Homo sapiens: one gene and its partners. The protein of the gene in region 1 purifies or fractionates together with the protein of each later gene. This does not show direct contact. Each region holds a gene or a part of one and is shown in the gene's direction. Other genes may lie near its edges.

Region 1 (3,500 bases):
ACAGCTCCAGCTGCCTGGGCCACCACCGGCCCCGCCTCGCCATGAGGAAGGTAGATGGCTCCCAGCTGTGGGATACCGCTGACCAGCCCACTTAAGAGGAATAATAATTAAAGAAATAAATTTCCTCCCCTGGTGTCAGCAGAAATTTGACTTCAACAAGAAAGTGCAGCAGCCTTCTTGGAAGGGGTGGGGGTGGCTGTCCTGGCTGACCCCCTGGGCTCTGGGCCCCTGACGGCAGAGGACAGTATGGCTTCTACCCCCAGCTTCCCCAGTCCCTGAAGCCGAGCCCTCCCTCCTGGGCCCGCCTGCCACCTGAAGGCCTGAGCTCCAGGGTCCCTCCCCACAGAATCCTGTGTGGGCCCCCAGTGAGCATGGCCCATATGTGGCCACCATGAGCCTGATGGCTCCTGTGGTGGGGCAGAGGCCCCAGTCTCTGGCCACAGGGCTGGCCTTGGCTTGTTCTGTGTCCCCAAAGCCCCCAGCCACCTGTGGCCGTGGCCCTCCCTGCTGTGGGCCAGCTGCTGCGTGTTCCTGGCACGTCCGGCCTCTGCGCCTCCCCTGCTGGTCACCTGCCCACCCTCCCTGGGGTGACGAAGGCCCTGTCGGCTTGCCCCCGCCCCACACTGCCTCTTCTGGGGCACCCTCTGCCGCTGGCTGCCTTCTCCCAAGGGCACAGCCTCCATGTGCCAGACGGACGTGCCCTGGAGGGCCTGGTGGGCGCGCTGTGAGCAGACCAGGGCTTGGCGCAGCCCTGCCTAACTTCTTGGGAGAGTGCTGGCCTGGGAATTGGGGCTGCCTGCGTGCCCCGGTCATCGTGGATGTTGTCCCTTGGGCCAGGCAGCAGCTGTCCAGTGGGTGCTGGCCGGAGCAGGGCCTGGAGGTGCTGAGGAACCTCTGACTGCAAGGCCCCCACCCCGCTTGCCTTGCAGAGCCTGACATCCAGCGGTGCCCAGAGCTGGCACTGGGGCACCGAGCAGGGGGTGGGGCTGGTGGGAGCCGAGTCTATTCTGAGAAGATCCCGGGGAAGTGAAAGTTCTCTGGAATGCATGGCGCCTTCTGCTGTGGAGCTGCTGGGGGTTATTCAGTTGAACTTTTTAGCACTTCTCAGGCAGCCCTTGCTTCTTTTCCAGCCAGCTATTTTATGTGCATTTTTTAACACTGCAAAGCATTTGAAAAAGTGCCTCCTGTTCTTGTCAGAACTCCTGCCGTGAGCCTCACACTGGCATTTTTTTAAAGAGCACAAAGTGGAAAGGGAGGTAACCCCTCCTGCTGCACCCGGTCCTGCCAGGCGGGCACGTGATGCCAGTGTGTCCCTGCCTGGAGCAGATGGCGTCGCAGTGTCACTGGCAGCCTGGGCGAGAGACTGGGAACCAGCAGTGCCGACAGACCGCCGCATTGCCGCGTCCCTCACCCCACAGGCTGGCAGGTGTGAGGGCGTGCCCGTGCCGTCTGGACTGGGCCCTGCTGCCCACCCGGGGACAAGGGTCCCGGCCTGAGAACGGGGGCTGCCCTGAGCACCCCCGCGTTGGTCCCTCCGCACCAAGACCCTCATCACCCTCCCTTTGCCCCTGGCCCCCCACACGCCTCAGGTTTCTGCGTTCTTCAACGCCCCCTTTCCTGCCCCAGGTACCATGACTAGCTCCTGCTCCTGCCCCAGCCGGGCTCGCTGGCCACTCAGCTCTGGAGCTGCCCTTTTGAAACTTGAGACGGGCTGAGTGGGGACAGTAGGCAGGGCCCCTGAGGGTGAAGGGCAGCAGCACCACTGACCCTAGCTAGGGAGCACTGGGCTGGACGCAAAGCACAAAGCGAGGAGTGGGGGGGGCTCCAGCCTGGGGGTGCGAGGGAGCGGAAGCCTTGGGTCCTCGGGTGGGAGTCTGCGGCTGCTGGGCCATCTGGGAGAGTGAGGACGAGGCTGCTCTCTGGTGCTCAAGAGTGGGGCAGGTCTGGCTATTTGGGGCTGGGCGGCTTTGGGACATCCCTTTTTAAACCAGGATGGCTTTGTCACCACCTCAGGTCCCCAGAATTTCTGAGTGATGTCACCTCTGCCTCTTAACTGCAGTGTCCATTTCAGCATTTGCCCTGTAGGAAATTGGATCTGGTCTGGGAAGGATCATGCGCGTATTTGAGGAACCCGGGAAAGCCGCCCTCAGCAGGCTGGTCCTGCCCTGCCCACCCCGTGATCCTGGGTGACCTCTGTCTGTAAAAGGCAGGCAGGGCTGTGTCACCGGAGCAGACCCTCCTCCTCCAGATGGCACCCCCTCCCCGCCTCATCCCCTTGGCTCTCAGGCCTGGCAGCACTCGGCCATGTCCAGCCCCAAGGTCCATTTCCTTCCTGCCACCACCGCACTCCCAGGCCGCCCTCCCAGGCCGTGGTGTGCGGTTTCAGAAAGGCGGGGGTGGTGCTTATGCTTGGGGTTTTGAGGAGCATCTGATGAGGCACCTCTAAAATTTAGAGTAACAGACACTAGCCAGGATCTGCCAGCGCCAGCCCAGGGCTTCAGGGACAGGTGCCCTTCCCCCAGACCTCCACAGCTGCAGTGGGCAGCTGGGCAGATGCCTCCGCCAAGCGGGCTTTGCCCCCACACCTTCTCTGCTGCATGTCTTTAGTTTTATAGCCCTCTAAAAGTCAGAAGCCATTCTTGCTCCCAAAAGGCCAGACCATGTGTGCCCCATGGGCCATATTCACCCCCTGGTCTAAGTGACCCCGCGGGTCCTGCCAGCCCAGGCCCTGGCAGAGGGAGGTGCTGCTGTTAGCAGCTGTTCTGTTTACAGGGCAGCTTCCTGGGTGGCCAGGGCTGAGGAGAGAGCCAGGAGCAGTGTCCATAGGCCAGTCACTGCCTTGGCCCAGGGTGGGCACCCAGGGACATGAGGAAGCCAGCAGGGGGGTTCCAGCCAGCAAAGCGTGGCCCTGGGGAGCCTGGCCAGGGAGGCAGCAGGGACAGGCGGGCGTCTCCAGCCCACGTGGCCAAGCCCTCCGCGGGTGCTGCCTGGCTTTGCTGGCTCTGAGGGCAGGGACAGGAGCCCTGCCCGGACCCTGCCCTGGAGAGGAGCTAGACACAGGGCCCAGCAGCTCCCCACTCTCAGGTGCTGTGTCCCCAGAGGGGCCTGGCAGGGCCCAGGGCATCTGAACCACTGTGGGGAGGGGAGCTCTGGGCAGTTTCCTGGAGGGGAGGCTGTGCCTGAGCTGAGTGTTGGGACCCCTGAGGGCCTCGACTAAGGGGGTCAGCAGGGAAAGGGCGTGCGGGCCAGGCTGTGGCCTGCTATGACCCGTGCCTCTCTCCCCCACAGGCCGGCTGGATCCTGCAGGCAGCTGTAGCCGTTCCCTGGCCAGGTAATGCCTTTGGGCTGGGCAGTGGGTGGGCTCCCTGCTCGCCCTCAGGCTCACGCACCTCTCTCCCCGTCTGCAGCCGGGCAGTGCAGCGCAGCCTGGCCATCATCCGGCAGGCGCGGCAGCGCAGGGAGAAGAGGAAGGAGTACTGCATGTACTACAACCGCTTCGG
Region 2 (3,500 bases), on another chromosome or scaffold:
TACACCCAAGACATTCCATTCCCAGGGACGAGCAGGAGACAGATGCCTTCCTCTTATCTCAACTGCAAAGAGGCCTTCCTCTTTCACTAACCCTCCTCAGCACAGACCCTTTATGGGCGTCGGGCTGGGGGACAGGCTGGGAGACAGTCAGGTCTTTCCCTTCCCACGAGGCCATATCTCAGGCTATCACATGGGGAGAAACCTTGGACAATACCTGGCTTTCCTGGGCAGAGGTCCCTGCGGCCTTCCGCAGTGTATTGTGTCCCTGGGTACTCGAGATTGGAGAATGGCGATGACTTTTATCAAGCCTACTGCCTTCAAGCACTTTTTTAACAAAGCACACCCTGCACAGCCCTAAATCCATTAAACCTTGAGTCAACACAGCTCATGTCTCTGCAAGCACAGGGTTGGGGCTAGGGTTACAGTTTAACAGCATCTCAAGGCAGAAGAATTTCTCTTAGTACAGAACAAAATGGAGTTTCTTGTGTCTACTTCTTTCTACATAGACACAGTAACAGTCTGATCTCTCTTTCTTTTTCCTACAGTCCTTTTTTTTTGGAGACAGAGTCTCGCTCTGTCGCCCAGGCTGGAGTGCAGTGGTGCGACCTCGGCTCACTGGAACCTCCGCCTCCTGGGCTCGAGCAGTTCTCATACCTCAGCCTCCCGAGTAGCTGGGACTACAGGCGCACATGCCACCATGCCTGGCTCATTTTGTTTGTATTTTTAGTAGAGACAGCATTTCACCATGTTGGCCAGGCTGGTCTCTTGACCTCAAGTGGTCCACCCGCCTTGGCCTCCCAAAGTGCTAGAATTACAGGCGTGAGCCACCGCACCCAGCCCATTACATCTATTTTAAAAAACTATTATTTTTGGCCAGGTGCGGTGGCTCACACCTGTAATCCCACCATTTTGGGAGCCCAAAGTGGGCGGATCACGAGGTCAAGAGATTGAGACCATCCTGGCCAACATGGTGAAACCCTGTCTCTACTAAAAATACAAAATTTAGCTGGGCGTGGTGGCACGTACCTGTAGTCCCAGCTACTCAGGAGGCTGAGGCAAGGGAATCACTTGAACCCAGGAAGTGGAGGGAGGTCGTAGTGAGCCGAGATCACGCCACTGCACTCTAGCCTGGCGACAGAGTAAGACTCCATCTCAAAAAAAAAGAAAAAAAACTAATATTTTTATTGTTTTTATTTATTTTATTTTATTTATTTATTTTTTTGAGACGGGAGTTTTGGCTCTGTCACCCTGGCTGGAGTGCAGTGGTGCGACCTCGGCTCAATGCAACCTCCACCTCCCAGGTTCAAGCAATTCTCCTGCCTCAGCCTCCCGAGTAGCTGGGATTAAAGGCGCCCACCACCATGCCTGGCTAATTTTTTTGTGTTTTTTGTAGAAGACGGGGTTTCGCCATGTTGGCCAGGCTGGTCTCGAACTCCTGACCTCAGGTGATCTGCCCACCTCAGCCTTCCAAAGTGCTGGGATTATAGGCGTGAGCCACGGCACCCAGCCTTGTTACTGTTTTTGGTGACTCACCTGCAGTGTGTCTCCCTTCTTGAGTGTAAGCTCAGTAAGGATAGGCTGTGCCCGCTCTGCTAACCCCAGGGCTGCTGCTGGGCAGGTAGTGAGTTGTCAGTGCACCTCTGTGGAGTGCAGCAATACACGCAGAGCTTACATCATCCTCAAAGTAGGGACTGCCCTCTTTGCTTTTCAGATAAGGAAACTGAGGCACAGAGAGATGAAGGGACATGTCCAAGGCCACCCCACTTGAATGCACCGGGGCTGGGATTTGAGCCCCAGATGGCCTGACTCTAGCAGGGTTCTTTCTGCCGCTGAGCTGCCTATCGCCTGCCTTTGTCCAGATGGCCCTTCTCTGGCCAATAGCGAGTGCTAGGCTTCACCACGGATTGTCAACCCTGAGCACATGCCTTAGTCCCCTGGAGGCTCAGTAAGCTGAGTGTCACTCAGCTCCGGGGCTTGTGACTTACCAGATCAGGTGGCCCTGAGAATGTGCATTGTGCCACTGGTTCGGGGCCACCCCTAGAGCACTGCAGTGCATCCTCCCACTTGCCACAGGCATGCCTGGTTTCAAGGTGATGGTGTCATCCCCATTTTCGCGAGGAAGTGCTAACTTGCCCGGGAGCCCTCAGGTAGTAAGCACTACAGGCCCTTTCCCCTTGACGGGGTGGCCTGAAGGTGGGGACATCAGGAAGACCTTGCTGCCAGGACCCCAGGCCTGGAGTGGGCTGACAAGTGCCCAGGGCAGGGTAGCTCCTGTTTGGTACATCTGGGTGTGTGGGCTCAGTTTTCAGAGTCCCTTCAATGTGTCTGAGTTTGGAGAGCTGGGCTCTGATGTGTCCATGGCTCTGCCTTAGAGCCTGGCCTGGTGGATGCAGTGACGGGGTCCTCTCCAGCCTCAGCCTCCTCTGGGGCAGCTGCTCACCTGTGCGTCCAGCTGATCCCGGGCCACCACTGAGCTTCTTCCATCTCCACAGATGAAAAAGCGGGACCTGGAGCCCTCGGACGCCACCTACACGGCCCTGTTCAACGTCTGTGCCGAGTCCCCCTGGAAGGACTCAGCTCTACAGAGCGCCCTGAAGCTCCGGCAGCAGCTGCAGGCCAAAAACTTCGAGCTCAACTTGAAAACATACCACGCGCTGCTGAAGATGGCTGCCAAGTGCGCAGACCTTAGGATGTGCCTCGATGTGTTCAAGGTGGGGCTTCCCCTGCCGTCCTGCTCCCCTTCATGGGGCTGGTCCCACGTGTCAGGGGCAGGGCTGTGGTGTCTGTCTCTCCTCATGTAGGAAGGCTTAGGGAGGATGAGACAGCCGGTATTGGGCCCTGGGGTTCACAGATGGATCTGATGAGACCTTACTGGAGATTGTGTATGCCACCGTGTGCTGTGTCCTGCTTTGTGCACTCGAGGGAAGGCTTCCTAGAGACAGGGTCTTGCTATGTTGCCCAGGCTGGTCACAAAACTCCTGGCCTCAAGTGATCATCCTGCCTTGGCCTCCCAATGTGCCAGGATTACAGACATGAGCTACCATGCCCAGCCTGCTGCAGGTTCTCAGTGGGACGTCTTTGTTCCCTCCCCCAGGAAATCATCCACAAAGGGCACGTGGTCACAGAGGAGACCTTCAGTTTCCTGCTCATGGGCTGCATCCAAGACAAGAAGACAGGCTTCCGGTACGCCCTCCAGGTATGTCCCTCCCACCCCACCTTCCTGCCCTGCTTCCCCGGTGCCAGAGGTGCAAAATGGTGATCCTGTGAGCACCCACGATGGCCCTGTGCTGAGTATTTTTATATCTGTGCTCTTTTCTGAAAACCCAGCAGCCACTGTAGCCTCCATTCTACAGATGGCAGGGAGAGGAGGCCCTTGGAGATGGAATGAGGGTGGCCCCCGCCCCTCCCACCCTGCTTTGCAGTCGGCTTAGCCCCTCTAAACTCACCTTCCTTGAAAGCCTGCCACACACTCACCTGGGGACTTGTTCAACCCTCCCACA
Region 3 (3,500 bases), on another chromosome or scaffold:
CCTAAAATACGGGGCTTCCCCTATGATCTCTGCATCTGGCAATGGCATTGCCATCCACCTGGTTGCCCAAGCCAGACTCTGAGTATCATCCTTCCCTCTTCATCCTCACCTCTCCAGTCTAGTCGACCAGCCGACTTAGTCTTATCCTGTCTCCTGTCTTCCTCTTCACTATGTCCAGAGGTTGTCCACTTCTCTTTTTAAAAATTTTTTAAATTAATTTTTTATTTTATTTTATTTTGAGACAGGATCTCACTCTGTCACCCAGGCTGGAGTACAGTGGTGCAAAAACAGGTTGCTGCAGACTCAACCTCCTGGGTTCAAGTGATCCTCCCACCTCAGCCTCCCGAGTAGCTGGGATCATAGGCGCATGCCACCATGTCTGGCTAACTATTTTTTTTTTTTTTTTTTTTTTTTTTTTTGTAGAGACGGGGTCTTGCTATGTTGCCTCGGCTGGTCTCCAACTCCTGGACTCAAGCAGTCCACCTGCCTGAGCTTCCTAAAGTACCAGGATTACAGCTGTGAGCCACCATGCCCGGCCTAAGATCTTTCTTCAGTCTTGGCCAGGTGCAGTGGCTCACACATGTAATCCCAGCACTTTGGAAGGCCAAGGTGGGTGGATCTCTTGAGCTCAGGTGTTTGAGACCAGCCTGGGCAGCATAGTGAAACCCTGTCTCTTAAAAAAAGTGTGTATGTGTGTATTTCTTCAGTCTTGATGGTATTAACAAGACTTCTTCCAGGTGTGTCCTGAGAGTCTCTGGTCATGTAGTCTGTGGTAGATTTTTCACTGAGATATGATTGTCCTCTTCAACCTAAAAATCGCCTTGGAAAATAAGCCAAACAAGCTATACGTAGACATTTTAGGAGTATTGGGGTTCTCTAGTTCTTTATATGTGGTATCTCCTCTATGCTTATTAATCAGAGTCACATCGTACCTGGTGGTTTTTTTTTTTTGAGGCGGTGTCTCGCTCTGTCGCCAGCCTGGAGTGCAGTGGCACCATCTCAGCTCACTGCAACCTCCGCCTTCCAGGTTCAAGTGATTCTCCTGCCTCAGCCCCCCGAGTAGCTGGGTCTACAGGCGCCCACCACCACGCCCAGCTAATTTTTGTATTTTTAGTAGAGACAGGGTTTCACCATGTTGGCCTGGATGGTCTCGATCTCTTGACCTCATGATCCACCGGCTTTGGCCTCCCAAAGTGCTGGGATTACAGGTGTGAACCACCGTGCCCGGCCCCCATGCATGGTGTTTAATAAGCTCTTGTGGCTGGGCATGGTGGCTCACACCTGTAATCCCAGCACTTTGGGAGGCCGAGGCAGGCAGATCACTTGAGGTCAGGAGTTCGAGACCAGCCTGGCCAATATGGCGAAACCTGGTCTCTACTAAAAATACAAAAATTAGCCAGGCCTGCTGGTGCGTGCCTATAATCCCAGCTACTTGGGAGGCTGAGGCAGGAGAATCACTTGAACCTGGGAGGTGGAGGTTGCAGTGAGCCAAGATCATGCCAGTGCCCTCCAGCCTGGGGGAACAGAGCGAGACTCCGTGTCAAAAATAAATAAATAAATAAATAAGCTCTTGCTTTCAAGGAAACCCTAATCTAGTTGGTTTTTGAATAGAGTAGATTTTTAGTACAGTAAAACAGTCTGTGAGATTTAAAATTTTTTTTCTGACTTTAAAATATTTGTATTAAATGTAGAAATGTTGAAATTTAGAAGAATATAAATCTAAAAATCAGTCATCTGTAATCCTGCTTCCTGCCTAATGGCAGCTGTTACCAATATTTATATATATATTTTATCCCACTGTGTCATGCTATATATATGAAATGTGTGTGTATATATACATATATACACATATATACGTATGTATACACATATATGTATATATGACATATAAGTACATATATGTATGTATGACATATATGTATGTTACATATAAGTACATATGTGTATGTATATGATACGTGTATGTATATATGACATATAAATACATATACGCACATATGTAATATATATTATATATATACACACACACATACACTCATATAGTTTGAGTATCTCAAATTCAGAATGCTCCAAAATCTGAGACTTTGTCAACGTGATGGTCAAAGGAAGTGTTCTTTGGAGCTTTTGGGATTTCAGATTTTCAGATTTGGGGTGCTTAGCTAGTAATGCAGATATTCCAAAATCCCAAAAACCCTAAATCCAAAACACTTCTGGTCTCAAGCATTTCGAATAAGGGATACTTGACATATATATGTATATATATATAGTTCAGAGTATATTCTATATGTAGTTTTGTATTCTCCTTTTTCCTCTAAAGCTCATATCGCACATTTCTGTGGGATCCAGGTAAAAAATCTCCACCCAACCATAGCACAACACAGATTTATATCAGAAAAGTAGCTAATTTTTGACTGCCAGGATTAAGCTGCTTTTGACAAAGTTATATGTTTAGCCCATGTGTTCCTGATGGTTAGCTTCCTCTTTATGATCATGCACTACAAATGGAGGGGGATTCTCTTTTGTATTTTCTCTTAGGTAGTTCGAGGACACTACAAAGGTCAGCAAATTGGCAAGGTAGTCCAGGTGTACAGAAAGAAATATGTCATCTACATCGAGCGGGTGCAGCGTGAGAAGGCCAACGGCACAACTGTCCACGTGGGCATTCACCCAAGCAAGGTATGGTCAAGGACTGAGTGGCAGTAGCAGCCATGGAGTGTGTCAATACTGTTCAAAGTTATTGGTGTTTTGGTACTCCCTGCACAGTTGGCTGAGGCAGGCCAGGTGGACTTGATTGATTCAGTAGCTTTGTGATATCATCAAGGATCCAGATTTTTCTTCTCTTCTCTTTTCTGTTTTGCCTTTCTTGGTGATGGCTGTGTCTTTTTTTTTTTTTTTTTTTTTTTGAGACGGATGCTCGCTCTGTCACCAGGCTGGAGTGCTGTGGTGCGATCTCGGCTCACTGCAACCTCCACCTCCTGGGTTCAAGCAATTCTCCTGCCTCAGCCTCCCAAGTAGCTGGGACTACAGGCACACACCACCACGCCCAGCTAATTTTTATATTTTTAATAGAGATGGGGTTTCACCATGTTGGCCAGGATGGTCTCGATCTCCTGACCTCGTGATCCGCCCGCCTCGGCTTTCCAAAGTGTTGGGATTACAGGTGTGAGCCATCATGGCCGGCCGATGGCTGTGTCTTTAAGCTGGTTGCAAGAGGCTTCCAAGTGTTCTAGGCATCACTTCCCCTACCACATAATATTCAGAGGAATAAGAGAGAATATATCTTCCTGTAGCCCTCATGCCTACCTAGTGGAACATGCTATTTTTCCTTTGTGTTCCTATTTTGTATTGTGTTACAGGGTCTGTTTTCCTTCCAGAGTTTCAGTTCCTTAAAAGCTGAATGGCTGAGGTCTTACTTAACTTATGATGTCTATATTGCTCAATAGCTGGTGGGGATGCAGAAATAAAGACCTGTTTTCTCACTCCCAACAGGTGGTTATCAC
Region 4 (3,500 bases), on another chromosome or scaffold:
CCTTTCTTAGTCTTAGTCTGTTGAGAATTGGTCATAGAGGAGGCAGTTAAGACCAAAAGAGTAGCCAAAATTGTATAGAGAAAGGTTGTAAAATAAAAAGGTGGGGCCTATACACAAAACCCTGGTACATGACAGAGCAGAAGAAGATGCCAAAAACAGGGTAATTGGAGAGATAGGGAGAGAACTAGGAAAGCATAAAGAAGAGATATACAAAGACAGCATACCAGGGTCTCTATCAGATGTAATAGTGGGATGGAGTCAGAAGACTTAGTGACCATTGGACTTGCGGATGTAAAAAGAATGGGAGGTTTTACAGAGAAGTTTCTGTGAAAGAATAAAGAAATAGAAATTGCCTTTACAAAGATTTTAGATGAGAGAAATGCAAAGGCAAGAAAGTTTTGTTGTTTGTGGTAAAATATATATAACGTAAAACCTACCGTTTAATCTTTTTTTTGGAGACAAGAGTCTCGCTCTGTCGCCCAGGCTGGAGTGCAGTGGCTCGATCTCAGCTCACTGCAGTCTCCGCCTCCCGAGTTCAAGTGATTCTCCGGCCTAAGCCTCCTGAGTAGGTGGGATTATAGGCACCCACCACCACGCTTGGCTGATTTTTCTATTTTTAGTAGAGATGGGGTTTCACCATGTTGGTCAGGCTGGTCTCAAACTCCTGACCACCTCGGCCTCCCAAAGTGCTGGGATTACAGGCATGAGCCACTGTGCCCAGCCCATTTAACAATTTTAAACTGTGTTGTTCAGTAGCTTTAAGTACCTTCACATTGACTTACAATCATTACCACCATCCGTCTCCAGAAATTTTTTCATTTTGCAAAAACGAAACTCTGAACTCATTAAACAATAACTCCCCATTTCTCCTTCCGTAGGCAGCTACCATTCTACTGCCTGTCTCTATGAATTTGACTACTTTTCAGTATCTCATAAAAGTAGAATCATAGATTTGTGACCGACTTATCTGACTTAGCATAATGTCTTCAAGGTTCATCCATGTAGTAGCATGTGCCAGAATTTCCTTCTTTCTTAAGGCTGAATAATACTCTATCTTACGTATATACCACATTTTGTTTATCCCCTTATTCATTGATGGACACTTAGATTGCTTCCACCTTTTGGCTATTGTGAATAATGCTGGTATAAATATGAGTATAGAAATACTGTTCATGAGGCTGGGCGCAGTGGCTCATGCCTGTAATCCCAGCATTTTGAGAGGCCAAGGTGGGCGGATTGCTTGAGCTCAGAAGTTTGAAACCAGCCTGGGCAACATGGTGAAACTCCATCTCTACAAAAAAGACAAAAAATAAAATAAAAAATTGGCTGGGCTTGGTGGTGTGTGCCTGTAGTCCCAGCTACTTGGAATGCTGAGGTGGAGGATTGCTTGAGCCCAGGAGCTTGAGGCTGCAGTGAGCCAAGATTGTACTACTGCACTCCACCCTGGGTGACAGAGCAAGACGCTGTCTCAAAAGAAAAAAAAAAAAAAAAAAGGCTGGGTTCACACTTGTAATCCCAGCACTTTGGGAGGCCAAGGCGGGTAGTTCACCTGAGGTTAGGAGTTCAAGACCAGCCTGGCCAAAATGGTGAAACCCTGTCTCTATTAAAAATACAATAATTAGCTGGGTGTGGTGGAGGGTTCCTGTAATCCCAGCTACTTGGGAGGCTGAGGCACGAGAATCGCTTGAACCTGGGAGGTGGAGGTTGCAGTGAGCCGAGATTGTGCCACTGCTCTCCAGCCTGGGCAACAAGAGCGAAACTCAGTCTCAAAAAAAAAAAAAATTGTTTATGTCCTTGCTTTTAATGCTTTGGGGTATGTGCAAAGAAATGGGATTGCTGGATCATATAGTGATTCTGTTTTTAATTTTTTTTCTGTTCACCAGCCTAGCACAAAGCTGAATGTTTTTAATTTTTTGAGGAGCTCCTGTATTCTTTCATAGTGGCTACACCACTTTACATTTCTCTAGCAGTGCAGAGTTTCCAGTCTTCACATCCTCATCAACAACTTATTTTCTCATTTTGGTAATAGCCATCCTAATGGGCATGACGTGATATCTCATTGTGGTTTTTATTTGTATTTCCCTAAGGATTAGTGATGTTGAGCATATTTTCTTTTGCTTATTGGCCATTTGTATATATTCTTTGAAGAAAAGTCCTTTGCTTTTTTGTTTGTTTTAAAGAGACAGTGTCTCACTTTGTTGCCCAGGCTTCAGTGCAGTGGTGTGGTCATAGCTCACTGCAGCCTGGAACTTCTGGGCTCGAGTGATCCTCTCACCTCAGCCTCCCAAGTTGCTAGGACTAGAGGAGTAGGAGTAGTCAAATTCATAGAGACAGAAAGTAGAATGGTAGGAGTTACTCCACAGTGCCCAGCTAATTTATTTTTTATAGAGACAGGGTCTCACTATATTGCCCAGACTCTTTGCCCATTTTAAAATCAGGTTGTTTGTTGTTTTGTTGTTGAGTTGTAGGAGCTCTCTATATATTCTGGATATTAATCCCTTATCAAATATGTGATTTGCAGATGTTTTCTGCCATTCTGTGGGTTGCCTTTTTACTCTTTAGAGTGTCCTTTGATGCACGAAAGTATTTAATTTTGGTGAAGTTCAGTTTATTTTTTCTTCTGTTGCCTGTGTCTTTGGTATTATATCTAATAAATAATTGCCAAACCAGTATCATGTTTTCCCTATTTTCTTCTAAGAGTTTTATAGTTTTAAGTCTCCTGTTTAGATATTTAACCCATTTTGAGTTAGTTTTTGTAGGCGGTTAGTTTTCCATGTGGACATTTCCTCAGCAACGTTTGTTGGAAGGACTGTCCTTTGTGCATTGAATGGTCTTGGCTCCATTGTTGAAAATCATTTGACCATAGGCACAAGGGTTTATTTCTGGGCTCTGTATTCTGTTTCATCAGTCTGTGCGTCTGTCTTTTTGCCAGTTTCAGACTGTTTTGTTTACCATAGCTTTGTTCTAAGTTTTGAAATCAAGAAATATGAGACTCCAACTTTGTTCTTTTACAAGATTGTTTTGGCTATTTGGGGTTCCTTGAGAGTCCATATAATTTTTTTTTTTTTTTTGAGATGGAGTTTCGCTTTTGTTGCCCAGGCTGTAGTACAGTGGCACAATCTCGGCTCACAGATTCAAGCAATTCTCCTGCCTCAGCCTCCCAAGTAGCTGAGGTTACAGGTGCCCGCCACCATGCCCAGCTAATTTTTTGTATTTTTAGTAGAGATGAGGTTTCACCATTTTGGCTAGGCTGGTCTTAAACTCCTAACCTCAGGTGATGCACCCGCCTTGGCCTCCCAAAGGGCTGGGATTACAGGTGTGAGCCACCGTGTCTGGCCCCACATAAAGTTTAGGTTGGATTTTTCTGTTTCTTCAAAAAATATTGTGATCTTGATATAGATTGCACTGAATCTGTAGACTGCATTGGGTAGTATTGGCATCTTTACAATATTGTCTTCCCATCCATGAATATGAAGTATCTTTCCATTTACTGGCATCTG
Region 5 (3,500 bases), on another chromosome or scaffold:
GAGATCTCGGCTCACTGAAACCTCTGCCTCCTGAGTTCAAGCAGTCTTCTCACCTAAGCCTCCCGAGTAGCTGGGACTACAGGCACAGGCCACTATGCCTGGCTAATTTTTTTTTTTTTTTTGAGACGGAGTCATGCTCTGTTGCCCAGGCTGGAGTGCAGTGGCACGATCTCGGCTCACTGCAAGCTTCTCCTCCTGGGTTCACGCCATTCTCCTGCCTCAGCCTCCCGAGTAGCTGGGACTACAGGCGCCCGCCACCACGCCCAGCTAATTTTTTGTATTTTTAGTAGAGACGGGGTTTCACCATGTTAGGCAGGATAGTCTCGATCTCCTGACCTCGTGATCCACCCGCCTCGGCCTCCCAAAGTGCTGGGATTACAGGTGTGAGCCACCACGCCCGGCCATGCCTGGCTAATTTTTGTATTTTTTGTAGAGATGGGGTTTTGTCACGTTGCCCATGCTAGTATTGAACTCCTGGGCTCAAGTGATCTGCCTGCCTCGGCGTCTCAAAGTGCTGGGATTATAAGCGTGAGCCCTTGCAACTGGTCTCTTGATTTATTTTGAACCACTGAAAAATGCAAAAACCATTCTTAACTCATAGGCCACAAAAAACAAGCCAGATGCGGTGGCTCATTCATGTAATCCCAGCACTTTGGGAGGCCGAGGCAGGCGGATCACTTGAGGTCAAGAGTTCAAGACCAGCCTGGCCAACATGATGAAACTCCGTCTCTACTAAAAATACAAAAAATTAGCTAGGTATGGAGGCAGGTGCCTGTAATCCTAGCTACTCAGGAGGCTGAGGCATGAGAATCGCTTGAATCTGGGAGGTGGAGGTTGCAGTGAGTTGAGATGGCGCCACTGCACTCCAGCCTGGGTGACAAAGTGAGACTCCATCTCAAAACAAAACAAAACAAAACAAGCAAACACACACACACAAAAAAAAAACAGTCTTCAGTCTTCAGGTTTGACTTGTGGACTGTAGTTTGCTGACCCTTTTTCTATTCTGGGACTCCAGGTGAGAAATGAGACCCTAGGTAGAAGTCCTAAGGTAGGGGTTTTGGGTTTCTGGGAAAGAATAAGTTTATTTATTTATTTATTTGACAGAGTCTTGCTCTGTTGCCCAGGCTGGAGTCTGGAGTGCAGTGGTGTGATCTCAGCTCACTGCAACCTCCATCTCCCAGGTTCAAGCTATTCTCTTGCCTCAGCCTCCCAAGTAGCTGGGATTACAGGTGTGTGCCACCACACCCAGCTAATTTTTGTATTTTTAGTAGAGATGGGGTTTCACCATGTTGGCCAGGCTGGTCTCGAACTCCTGACCTCAGGTGATCCGCCCACCTTGGCCTCCCAAAGTGCTGGGATTACAGGTGTGAGCCACTGCGCCCAGCCGAAAGAGTGATTTTTTTACTGAATAAAGTTGCCCAACAATGGAACTGGTTCTGGTAATGTGTCCCCATCACTAGATGTGATTAAGGCATGTGTCAGGGAATCTAGAGGTTTGACCAGAAACCTCAAAAACCCGTTGGACTTGTGATATTCAATGACTCTATTATATGGTAACAATAAGAAGTATAATGTATTGAGTCGCCACTCTGTACTAGGCATTGTGTTAAGCTTCCCCCAAGTACAATCCTCATTGATATCACCACAGTGCTGTGAGATGGGTCCTATTTTCATTTCACAAGGGAGAAAACTGAGGCTCAGTGTTGACATTTAGTAACATGGCCTGGATTCAATAGGCCCTTAACTACCCTGGACTCTTCCCCTAGATTCCTCTTAATCTGTAGAAGTGTAAACACTTCTGGCTCATTCCTGCATTTATTCTTTCAGTAGTTCTTTCCTGAGCAGCTAGTGAGTTGACACACCCAGGTTCTGCCTTAAGGAGCTCACAGCCTCCATTTTCCTCCAGGGACTCTTCCTCAGTAGAGCTGGGCAGGGAACCCCGCACTCTTGACCTTCAGTGTTACGCCAGTCTTCTTAGAGCCTCTCACTGGGAGACTGATGATAGGCAGAGTAAGAGGCATCTTGGGCTGCCCTTTGGATCCCAGGGCACTGAGGATACAGTTCAGGGTCCCAGATTCCATGACGGGGAAGCCTGAGAGTCTGGCCTGATGCTAGTTTGGGCTCCATGAGGCCCATTCTGAGAACGAGGTCAACATGCAGCCCAAAGCCATCCTGGGGTGGCATTTAGTTGAGAAAATGGACCTTGTTTGTTTCTTTCCAGTATGTGGACCAGCATTCGCCCATCTCAAGGTTGGCGTGGGACATCGGTTGGATGCCCAGGCTTCTGGAGTACTTGGTAGGTGATGTGAGAAGCCTGGGGGTACAGTGATAAGGCTTGAGAAAAGATCCTGAAGCTACCAGGAGCCCAGCCCACTTCTTACCTGGCACCCACGTCCCACCACTCCTCTCCTGCCCTGATTCCTGCCCCAAGGCTGATCAGCTGGGGAGTGGATAGGTGGGACGGAGGTAATCACAGGTTAATACCACAGTCACCCACCTTTATTCAGTGATTCCCACACATGACATAGTTCGAGGCCCTTTATGCACATTTATTTACCACAACAACTTTATTAGGTAGATACTATATGATTTTATGGAAGAAGAAAGTAGGATTTAGGTGACTTGTTCTGGGTCCCATGGCCAGTGAATACCCCTGGTCCGGAGAAGGAAAACCATCATTGCATCATGGGGCAGCCAGGCGCGTGACTCTGGACCTAATGGCCAGGGCCTGCATGTGGCTGGGTCTGGACACACAAAGCCCTAGTCATGAGCCATCTGTGTCCCCAGGGTCAGGTGGTGCCCACATCCTCCAGCCGCGACAGTCACAGTCCCCTTGTCTTGCTTCCTGAGGCACAGGCAGGCAGACATGATCTCATGCCCCCTCTCCCTGTTCTGTCTCCCCACGAGTGAATGCAGAGTTATTCTGTCCCTCAGCCAGAGGGAGAAACAGACCGGGAGAAAGGCAGGAAGTGACCACAGTGGCCACCGTTTATTGGGCCCTTCCTCTGTGCCGACTGCACAGCACCCACAGGAATCAGTATTTTTTTTTTTTCCTGAGACAGAGTCTTGCTCTGTCTCCCAGGCTGGAGTGCAATGGCATGATCTCGGCTCACTGGAACCTCCGCCTCCTGGGTTCAAGCAATTCTCCCTGCCTTAGCCTCCCGAGTAGGTGGGATTACAGGTGCCCGCCACCACGCCTGGCTAATTTTTTTTTTTTTTTTTTGTGAGACGGAGTCTCACTCTTGTTGCCCAAGCTGGAGTGTAGTGTAGCACCACACCTGGTTAATTTTGTATTTTTTGGTAGAGATGGGGTTTCACCATGTTGGCCAAGCTGGTCTCAAACTCCTGACCTCAGGTGATCCACCTGCCTCGGCCTCCCAAAGTTCTGGGATTACAGGCATGAGCCACTGCGCCTGGCCTTCAGACAGTATTTTTACCCCCATTTTACTGATGGGGAACTTGACGCTCAAAGAGGCTAAAGATTATACTCAGAGCTGTCC
Region 6 (3,500 bases), on another chromosome or scaffold:
GCTGCCACATTGCTCTTGAGAAAGGGTTTAATTTCATTTCCCTTGGGCAGTGCTAGAAAGCTCTCATTCTCGTCCATCTCATGTCTCTTAAATGAAGTGGAGGTTTTGCTGTCTTAGTGAAGAGGCATTGTCCTTTGACTGCATCAGTGTTATTACCTCATTGCTATTGTCAGCCCATCTTCAAGCATTGGGCCACCTAGAGATAAAATGTCAAGCCATTTGAGGCCAAGCAAAAAGAGGCAGTGAGTTCATTTATTTGTTCTTAGAATTATTTGAACTTTCGTTGGCTTTGTATTCTGCCGATTTGAATTTTTCCTTCCGCAACAGGTATAGTAGGTAATGCAGTAAAGACAAAACTATTTTTGTTTACCTTGGGTAAATGTCCTAGAGACTAGTAAATAAACAGATTCTAAACCTTATCAGAAAAATACTGCTGTATATGGGAGCTATGGAGTATAGGTTGTGATTCAGGTCCTGCCAATTCCATTTTGTAATTCTCTGTGACATACTGCCTAATTCAGTCATGCTTTTTTTTAGTTTAATGTTTTATTGTGGTAAAATATATGTAACAAAAAATGTGGCCAGACGCAGTGGCTCACACCTGTAATGCTAGCACTTTGGGAGGCTGAGGCGGGCGGATCACCTGAGGTCAGTAGTTTGAGACCAGCCTGACCAACATGGTGAAACCCAGTCCCTACTAAAAATACACAAATTAGCTGGACGCAGGGGCGCACACCTGTAGTACCAGCTACTTGGGAGGCTGAGGCTGGGGAATCGCTTAAACCCGGGAGGCGGAGGTTGCAGTGAGCCAAGATCGCACCACTCATTCCAGCCTGGGCGACAGAGCGAGACTCCGTCTCAAAAAAAAAAAAAAAAAAGTACTCTTCTAACCATTTGATGTGATCTCGGCTCACTGCAATCTCTGCCTCCCGGGTTCAAGCGATTCTCCAGCCTCAGCCTCCCGAGTGGCTGGGATTACAGGTGCCCGCCACCACGTCTGGCTAATTTTTTTGTATTTTTAGTAGAGACAGGGTTTCACCATGTTGGTCAGGCTGGTCTCGAACTCCTGGCCTTATGATCCACTGCCTCAGCCTCCCAAAGTGCTGGGATTACAAGTGTGAGCCACTGTGCCCAGCTCTTCTAACCATTTTCAAGTGTACAGTTTAGTGATACTAAGTTCATTTACATTGTTGTGCAATCATTGCAGCTATCCATCTCCAGAACTTTTTCATCATCCCAAACTGAAACCCTGTACCCATTTAACACTAACGGTCCGTTTCCCCTCTCCCCCAGCCCCTGGTAACAACATTCTACTTTCTCTCTCATGAATTTGACTGGTTTAGGTGCCTAATATAAGTGGAATCATACAGTATTTGTCCTTTTGTGTCTGGCTTATTTCACTTAGCATAATGTCTTCAAGGTTCATTCGTGTTGTAGCAGGTGTCAGAATTTTCTTCTTCTTTTTTTTTTTTTTTTAATTAATTATTTTTTGAGACAGGGTCTTGCTCTGTCACCCAGGCTGGAGCAGTAGCCTGCTCATGGCTCACTGCAGCCTCAACCTCCTGGGCTCAAGGAGTTCTCCCACCCCAGTCTCCCCAGTAGCTGGGATTACAGGCATGCACCACTATGCCCAGCTAATTTTTGTATTTTTTGTGGAGATGGGGTTTTGCCATGTTGCCCAGGCTGGTCTCGAACTCCTGGGCTCAAGCAGTCTGCCCTCCTTGGCCTCCCAAAGTGCTGGAATTACAGGTGTGAGCCACTGAGCCAGCTGGAATTTCCTTCTTTTTTAAAGTTGAATGCTATCTTGTGTATATATGTGCCACATTGTGTTTATCCATTTATTTGTTGACAGACATTTGGGCACACTTTTTAAATTCAGTTTGTTTCTGGTCCATCTCCAACTGGGTTTGATACTGTTTTTTTTGGTACATTGACTTTACCCTAAAGCATCCTTTTAGTCTTGATGGTGCTTCAGTTGCTCATTTGGGGTGCTTTCTTATTTAGAAATGAAGCTCAAGAAGAGATCTATAAAAAGGGACAGTCCAAAAGAATATGGGGTGAGCTCTACAAGGTAAGACTCCTAAATTCTCTCCCATTGAGTGGTTCCTTGGGCTTTCATGATTTTGTAGAAGAAAACTAATTTTGATATATTGAAGCTCTGTTGCGCAGAGTACAGGCACCACTGCCTGTTCCATCCTCTTCCTCCTACAAAGAAACTCGGAAGGCGTACTACCATTGATCTAGGTAACTGCATTTTTTAAAGTACTTGTATAAGAGTAACAGCTATCTTTTATTATACAATCACATATTTATTACCTGTCAGTATTTTTTAAGATTTCCTGCCAAATTTATCATGCCTAGTTAAAGTCACATGCAACATTTTAAGTTATTTAGTCCACCCCTCTCCTTTTATCGATGAGGACTCCTGTCTAGAAAGGTTTAATGCTGTACCTAGCTCGACTAGCTTGTTAGTGAAGGAGGCTTTGTATATCTTGATTTCTGATCCAGTGATCTTTAACCGGCAGAGGTTTATGTCCATGCACTAATAATAACCTTCAGAAGAAAAATTTTCAAGTATAATCACGTAATTAAATAGTAACATGATAGGAAACTAGTACCGTGAAGGCAAGCTAAACTTTGTAGTTTTTTGTGAAATACACAAAACCTATAATATTACAAACTTAAAGATAATATTACAAACTTAAAGAAGTCTAAGAAGTAAATGATTTAGTTCAATAATCCATAGTAGTTAGGAAATAAGTTGAGTTTCATCTAAGCTAGTTTTTCTGTTTTAAATTCAGCAGGTTTCAAAAGCCACAGGATGAAAAACCTTTTGAATTCTGATCACTGGGCCTTGAGATTAGCCACAACGAACTCTGCCCAGAGACTGTTTTGAAGTTGTCTCTAAATATTATTATTTTATTTTTCCCAGACTCCCTTAAATGTCATCCCTCTTTTATTTGTACTGTAGCAAACCATTTTTGCCTTTCTGAATTTTCAGGTGATAGATTCATCAGATGTTGTAGTTCAAGTTCTTGATGCTAGAGATCCAATGGGTACTCGTTCCCCTCACATTGAAACTTACCTGAAGAAGGAAAAACCTTGGAAACACCTCATTTTTGTACTTAACAAATGTGACCTTGTTCCAACCTGGGCAACAGTAAGTACAACTACTAAACCAGAATAGACTATTAAGACATCTGTTAGTAAGTCAGTTGTAGGGCTTTTAGGCTAAAGTGTTGTCCGGCTGAGATTGTAGTAATGGGAGTGCTCTCATTGGAAACACGAAAGTGTGCTCATTGATAGTGGGCAGAGGCACCAGGAGACGGCTTCTGAGGCCACTGCCTGCTTCACATTATGCTCCATTAATTGCATTTAGTAACAATGAAGACATTTTTTGGAATATTGTTTTGTATTTATAAGACAGAAGAACAAAGCATTAACTGTTATACTTGGAAAAAACATTTCAAAGAATTATAGCTAACATTTTCCTTAGACAA
Region 7 (3,500 bases), on another chromosome or scaffold:
AATTTGACGCCAGCCTGGGCAACATAGCAAGAACCTATCTCTAAAAATAAAGAAAGAAATTGATATGTGTGATTATAAAACTGTAATATTTTTCACAGAAATTTTGGAAAATACAAGTTTCAAATTATACACCAGGCATGGTGGCTCCTGCCTGTAATCCCAGCACTTTGGGAGGCCGAGTCAGGCGGATCACCTGAGGTCAGGAGTTCAAGACCAGCCTGGCCAACATGGTGAAACCCCGTCTCTACTAAAAATACAAAAATTAGCTGGGCGTGGTGGTGGGCACCTGTAATCCCATCTACTCCGGAGGCTGAGGCAGGAGAATTGCTTGAACCCGGGAGGCAGAGGTTGCAGTGAGCTGAGATCGCTCCACTGCACTCCAACCTGGGTGACAGAGCGAGATTCCATCTCGGAAAAAAAAAAAATTACAAAATTGCCCGTAAATCTACTATTTGTAACCACTGTTAACTATAGTAGCTCATTTTAGTATATAGTCACAGCCTGCCTTTGTGTATATTAATGGGATGATACTGTATGTGTTCAGCAGTCTCTTAACAAGAATTAAACATTTCCCAATAATATTAAACATTCTTTAATTTAATTTGAATTTTTTTGAGATGAGATCTGACAGGCAGAGAGTAGTGGCACTAACATAGCTCAATGTGGCCTCCAATTTCTGGGTTCAATTGATTGTCCTGCCTCAGCCTCCAAAGTGGCTGGGACTACAGGTGTGAGACACTGCCCAGCCCATTTTCTTAAATTTTTTGTAGATACAGGATCTCACTTTGTTGCCCAGCTTTTCTTGAACTCCTGGCTCAAGTGATCTTCCCACTTCCGCCTCCCAAAGCACTGGAATTACAGGTGTGAGCCACTGCACCCAATCTAATTTAATTTTAATGGCTGCATAGAATAACGTATAAATGAGAGATTGTTATGTACCAAGACAGTGTTTGAATCTGGGGGTGTAATGTTGATCACTTCAAACTTAGCCTTTTTTCTGAGACTGAAGTGTGATATATAAATAATTTCATAATACAGGGCTACCATAATTTATCTGTATTATGGAACCTTTAGGCTTTTTAATGGTTTTCTTTATTAGAAAAATATTTTAATGAATATTCTTAGGTATTAATATTTGTATGTATTTCTAATGATGTTCCTAAGATAACTTCCTGAAAGGAGAACTATGAGGTCAAAGGATATAGCTCTTGAAGTTTGTTGATATATATTATAAAATTCCTGCAGGAAATGTAAAAAAATATAATCCCAGCAGAATGTGAGAAGGCCTGCTTTCCTGTGCTCTCACCAACCTACATATTACCTGTCAACTTGATAGGTAAAAAATTTGTCTTATATTTAAAATTTGTATGTCTTTGAATACTAGTGAGGTTGAGGATTTATTCCTTTGCAAAACATGTATTTTTTGTCATTTGCTCATTTTGGTGGTGTATTGATTCCTTGTATACCTTTTTTTTTTTTTTTTTTTTTTTTTGAGACAGGGTCTTACCCTGTCACCCAGGCTGAAGTGCAGTGGCGCGATCTTGGCTCACTGCAGTCTCTTCCATCCGGGCTCAAGTGATTCTCCCATCTCAGCCTCCTGAGCAGTAGCTGGAACTGCAGGAGTGTGCCACCATGCCTGGCCAATTTTTTTGAATTTTTGTAGAGACAGGGTTTTGCCATGATGCCCAGGCTGGTCTCAAATTCCTGGACTCAGGCGATCTGCCTGCCTTGGGCTCCCAAAGTGCTGGGATTACAGATGTGAGCCACCACTACAGGGCCGTTGTTTCTTTTTAATAATGGCTTTATTGAGACATAGTTCACTTGCTATAGAATTCCCCCCTTAACCATCCTCAAGCCCCTTTTAGCCACTAATCTACTTTTTGTCTCTGGATTTACCTATTCTTGATGTGTTACAGAAATGGAACCATGCAATATGTTTTCTTTCACTTAGTGTAATGTTTTCAATAGGTTTCATCTGTTGTAGCATGTATTATTTTATCATTTCTTTTTATTGCCAAATATTTTATTTTATGAATATACCACATTTTATTTATCCATTCATTAATTGGTGGACATTTGGGTTGTGTCTACTTTTTGGATGAATAATGCTGTTGAACATTCACATACAGGTTTTTGTGTAGATATGTGTTTTCCATTCTCTTGGGTATATACCTAGCAGTGGAATGACTGAGTTGCATGGCACCTCCATATTTAACATTTTGAGGAACTGCCAAACTGTTTTTGAAAAACAATTTCAAAGTGGCTTCACTATTTTACAATTTCACCAGCAAGTTTGAGGCTTTCTATTTCTCCACATCCTCACTAATGGTTATTACCTGTCCTTTAGTTTTAGCCATTCTGATAGGTATGAAAGTATCATTGTAGTTTTGATTTGTGTCTCCCTAATAACCATCTTTTCATGTGCTTGTTGACTATTTGTATATGTTTGGAGAAATGTCTGTTCATATCCTTTGCCTGTTTTTTAATTGGGTTGTTTATCTTTCGATTGTTGAGTTATAAGTGTATTTTATATATTCTGGACACCAGTCCCAGTCCCTTCTCAGATATATGATTTGTAAACATTTTCTTCCATTCTTTGGGTTGTCCTCTTACTTTCTTGATGATGTCCTTTTTTTTTTTTTTTTTTGAGACGGAGTCTCACTCTGTCACCCAGGCTGGAGTGCAGTGGCTCGATCTCAGCTCACTGCAAGCTCCGCCTCCTGGGTTCACAGCATTCTCCTGCCTCAGCCTCCCGAGTAGCTAGAACTACAGGCACCCGCCACCACGCCTGGCTAATTTTTTGTATTTTTAGTAGAGATGGGGTTTTCACCGTGTTAGCCAGGATGGTCTCGATCTCCTGACCTTGTGATCTGCCTGCCTCAGCCTCCCAAAATGCTGGGATTAGAGGCGTGAGCCTTTTAAGCACAGAAGTTTTAATTTTGATGAAGTCCAATTTATGTAAGTCATGTGCTGCATAATGATGTTGTGGTCAGTGATAAACACATACACAACAGTGGTCCCAAGAGATTATAATACTGTATTTTCACTGCACTTTTTCTATGTTTAGATATGTTTAAATACACAAGTACAATTTTGTTACAGTTGTTACAGTATTTAACAGTAACATGCTACACAGGTTTGTAGCCAAGGAGCAATTGACTATACCATGTAGTCTAGGTGTGTAGTAGGCTGTACCACCTAGGATTGTGTAAATACATAATGATGTTTGTACATGACAAAATCACCTAGCCATGTCTTTGTCAAAAAATATTGTTAAGTGGCGTATGACAGTATTTTTCCTTTTGTTTCTTGTGCTTTTGGTGTCATATGTAAGAAATCATTGTCTTATTCAAGGTCATAAAAGATTCACTCTTGTGTTTCCTCCTAAAAGTTTTATAGTTTTAGCTCTTACATTTAGATCTATGACCTATTGTTTGTTAATTATCATACAGTTGTTCCTCAGTATCTGTTTGGGATTGGTTCCAGGAACGCTTGTAAAT

The links.
Region 2: the proteins of ZC3H3 (region 1) and PTCD1 purify together in Homo sapiens (affinity purification with mass spectrometry; 3 studies listed by BioGRID and IntAct, with this or other methods). This does not show direct contact.
Region 3: the proteins of ZC3H3 (region 1) and RPL26L1 purify together in Homo sapiens (affinity purification with mass spectrometry; 3 studies listed by BioGRID and IntAct, with this or other methods). This does not show direct contact.
Region 4: the proteins of ZC3H3 (region 1) and MALSU1 purify together in Homo sapiens (affinity purification with mass spectrometry; 3 studies listed by BioGRID and IntAct, with this or other methods). This does not show direct contact.
Region 5: the proteins of ZC3H3 (region 1) and TRUB2 purify together in Homo sapiens (affinity purification with mass spectrometry; 3 studies listed by BioGRID and IntAct, with this or other methods). This does not show direct contact.
Region 6: the proteins of ZC3H3 (region 1) and GNL2 purify together in Homo sapiens (affinity purification with mass spectrometry; 3 studies listed by BioGRID and IntAct, with this or other methods). This does not show direct contact.
Region 7: the proteins of ZC3H3 (region 1) and MRPS35 purify together in Homo sapiens (affinity purification with mass spectrometry; 3 studies listed by BioGRID and IntAct, with this or other methods). This does not show direct contact.

What each region holds. Positions count from the first base shown.
Region 1 is NC_000008.11:143,468,448-143,471,947, reverse strand, and holds part of ZC3H3 (zinc finger CCCH domain-containing protein 3), read left to right. Parts: intron 1-3,288; coding exon 3,289-3,331; intron 3,332-3,407; coding exon 3,408-3,500. UniProt on the Homo sapiens protein: Required for the export of polyadenylated mRNAs from the nucleus. Enhances ACVR1B-induced SMAD-dependent transcription. Binds to single-stranded DNA but not to double-stranded DNA in vitro. Involved in RNA cleavage.
Region 2 is NC_000007.14:99,428,799-99,432,298, reverse strand, and holds part of PTCD1 (pentatricopeptide repeat-containing protein 1, mitochondrial), read left to right. Parts: intron 1-2,492; coding exon 2,493-2,711; intron 2,712-3,094; coding exon 3,095-3,196; intron 3,197-3,500. Other genes in the region: ATP5MF-PTCD1 (ATP5J2-PTCD1 fusion protein), read left to right, coding at 2,493-2,711, 3,095-3,196. UniProt on the Homo sapiens protein: Mitochondrial protein implicated in negative regulation of leucine tRNA levels, as well as negative regulation of mitochondria-encoded proteins and COX activity. Also affects the 3'-processing of mitochondrial tRNAs.
Region 3 is NC_000005.10:172,965,924-172,969,423, forward strand, and holds part of RPL26L1 (ribosomal protein uL24-like), read left to right. Parts: intron 1-2,535; coding exon 2,536-2,676; intron 2,677-3,489; coding exon 3,490-3,500.
Region 4 is NC_000007.14:23,302,339-23,305,838, forward strand, and holds part of MALSU1 (mitochondrial assembly of ribosomal large subunit protein 1), read left to right. Parts: intron 1-3,500. UniProt on the Homo sapiens protein: Required for normal mitochondrial ribosome function and mitochondrial translation. May play a role in ribosome biogenesis by preventing premature association of the 28S and 39S ribosomal subunits.
Region 5 is NC_000009.12:128,315,948-128,319,447, reverse strand, and holds part of TRUB2 (pseudouridylate synthase TRUB2, mitochondrial), read left to right. Parts: intron 1-2,221; coding exon 2,222-2,296; intron 2,297-2,548; exon of another isoform or gene 2,549-3,500. UniProt on the Homo sapiens protein: Minor enzyme contributing to the isomerization of uridine to pseudouridine (pseudouridylation) of specific mitochondrial mRNAs (mt-mRNAs) such as COXI and COXIII mt-mRNAs.
Region 6 is NC_000001.11:37,582,438-37,585,937, reverse strand, and holds part of GNL2 (nucleolar GTP-binding protein 2), read left to right. Parts: intron 1-2,004; coding exon 2,005-2,071; intron 2,072-3,001; coding exon 3,002-3,160; intron 3,161-3,500. UniProt on the Homo sapiens protein: GTPase that associates with pre-60S ribosomal subunits in the nucleolus and is required for their nuclear export and maturation.
Region 7 is NC_000012.12:27,724,332-27,727,831, forward strand, and holds part of MRPS35 (small ribosomal subunit protein mS35 isoform 1 precursor), read left to right. Parts: intron 1-1,245; coding exon of another isoform or gene 1,246-1,254; exon of another isoform or gene 1,255-3,500.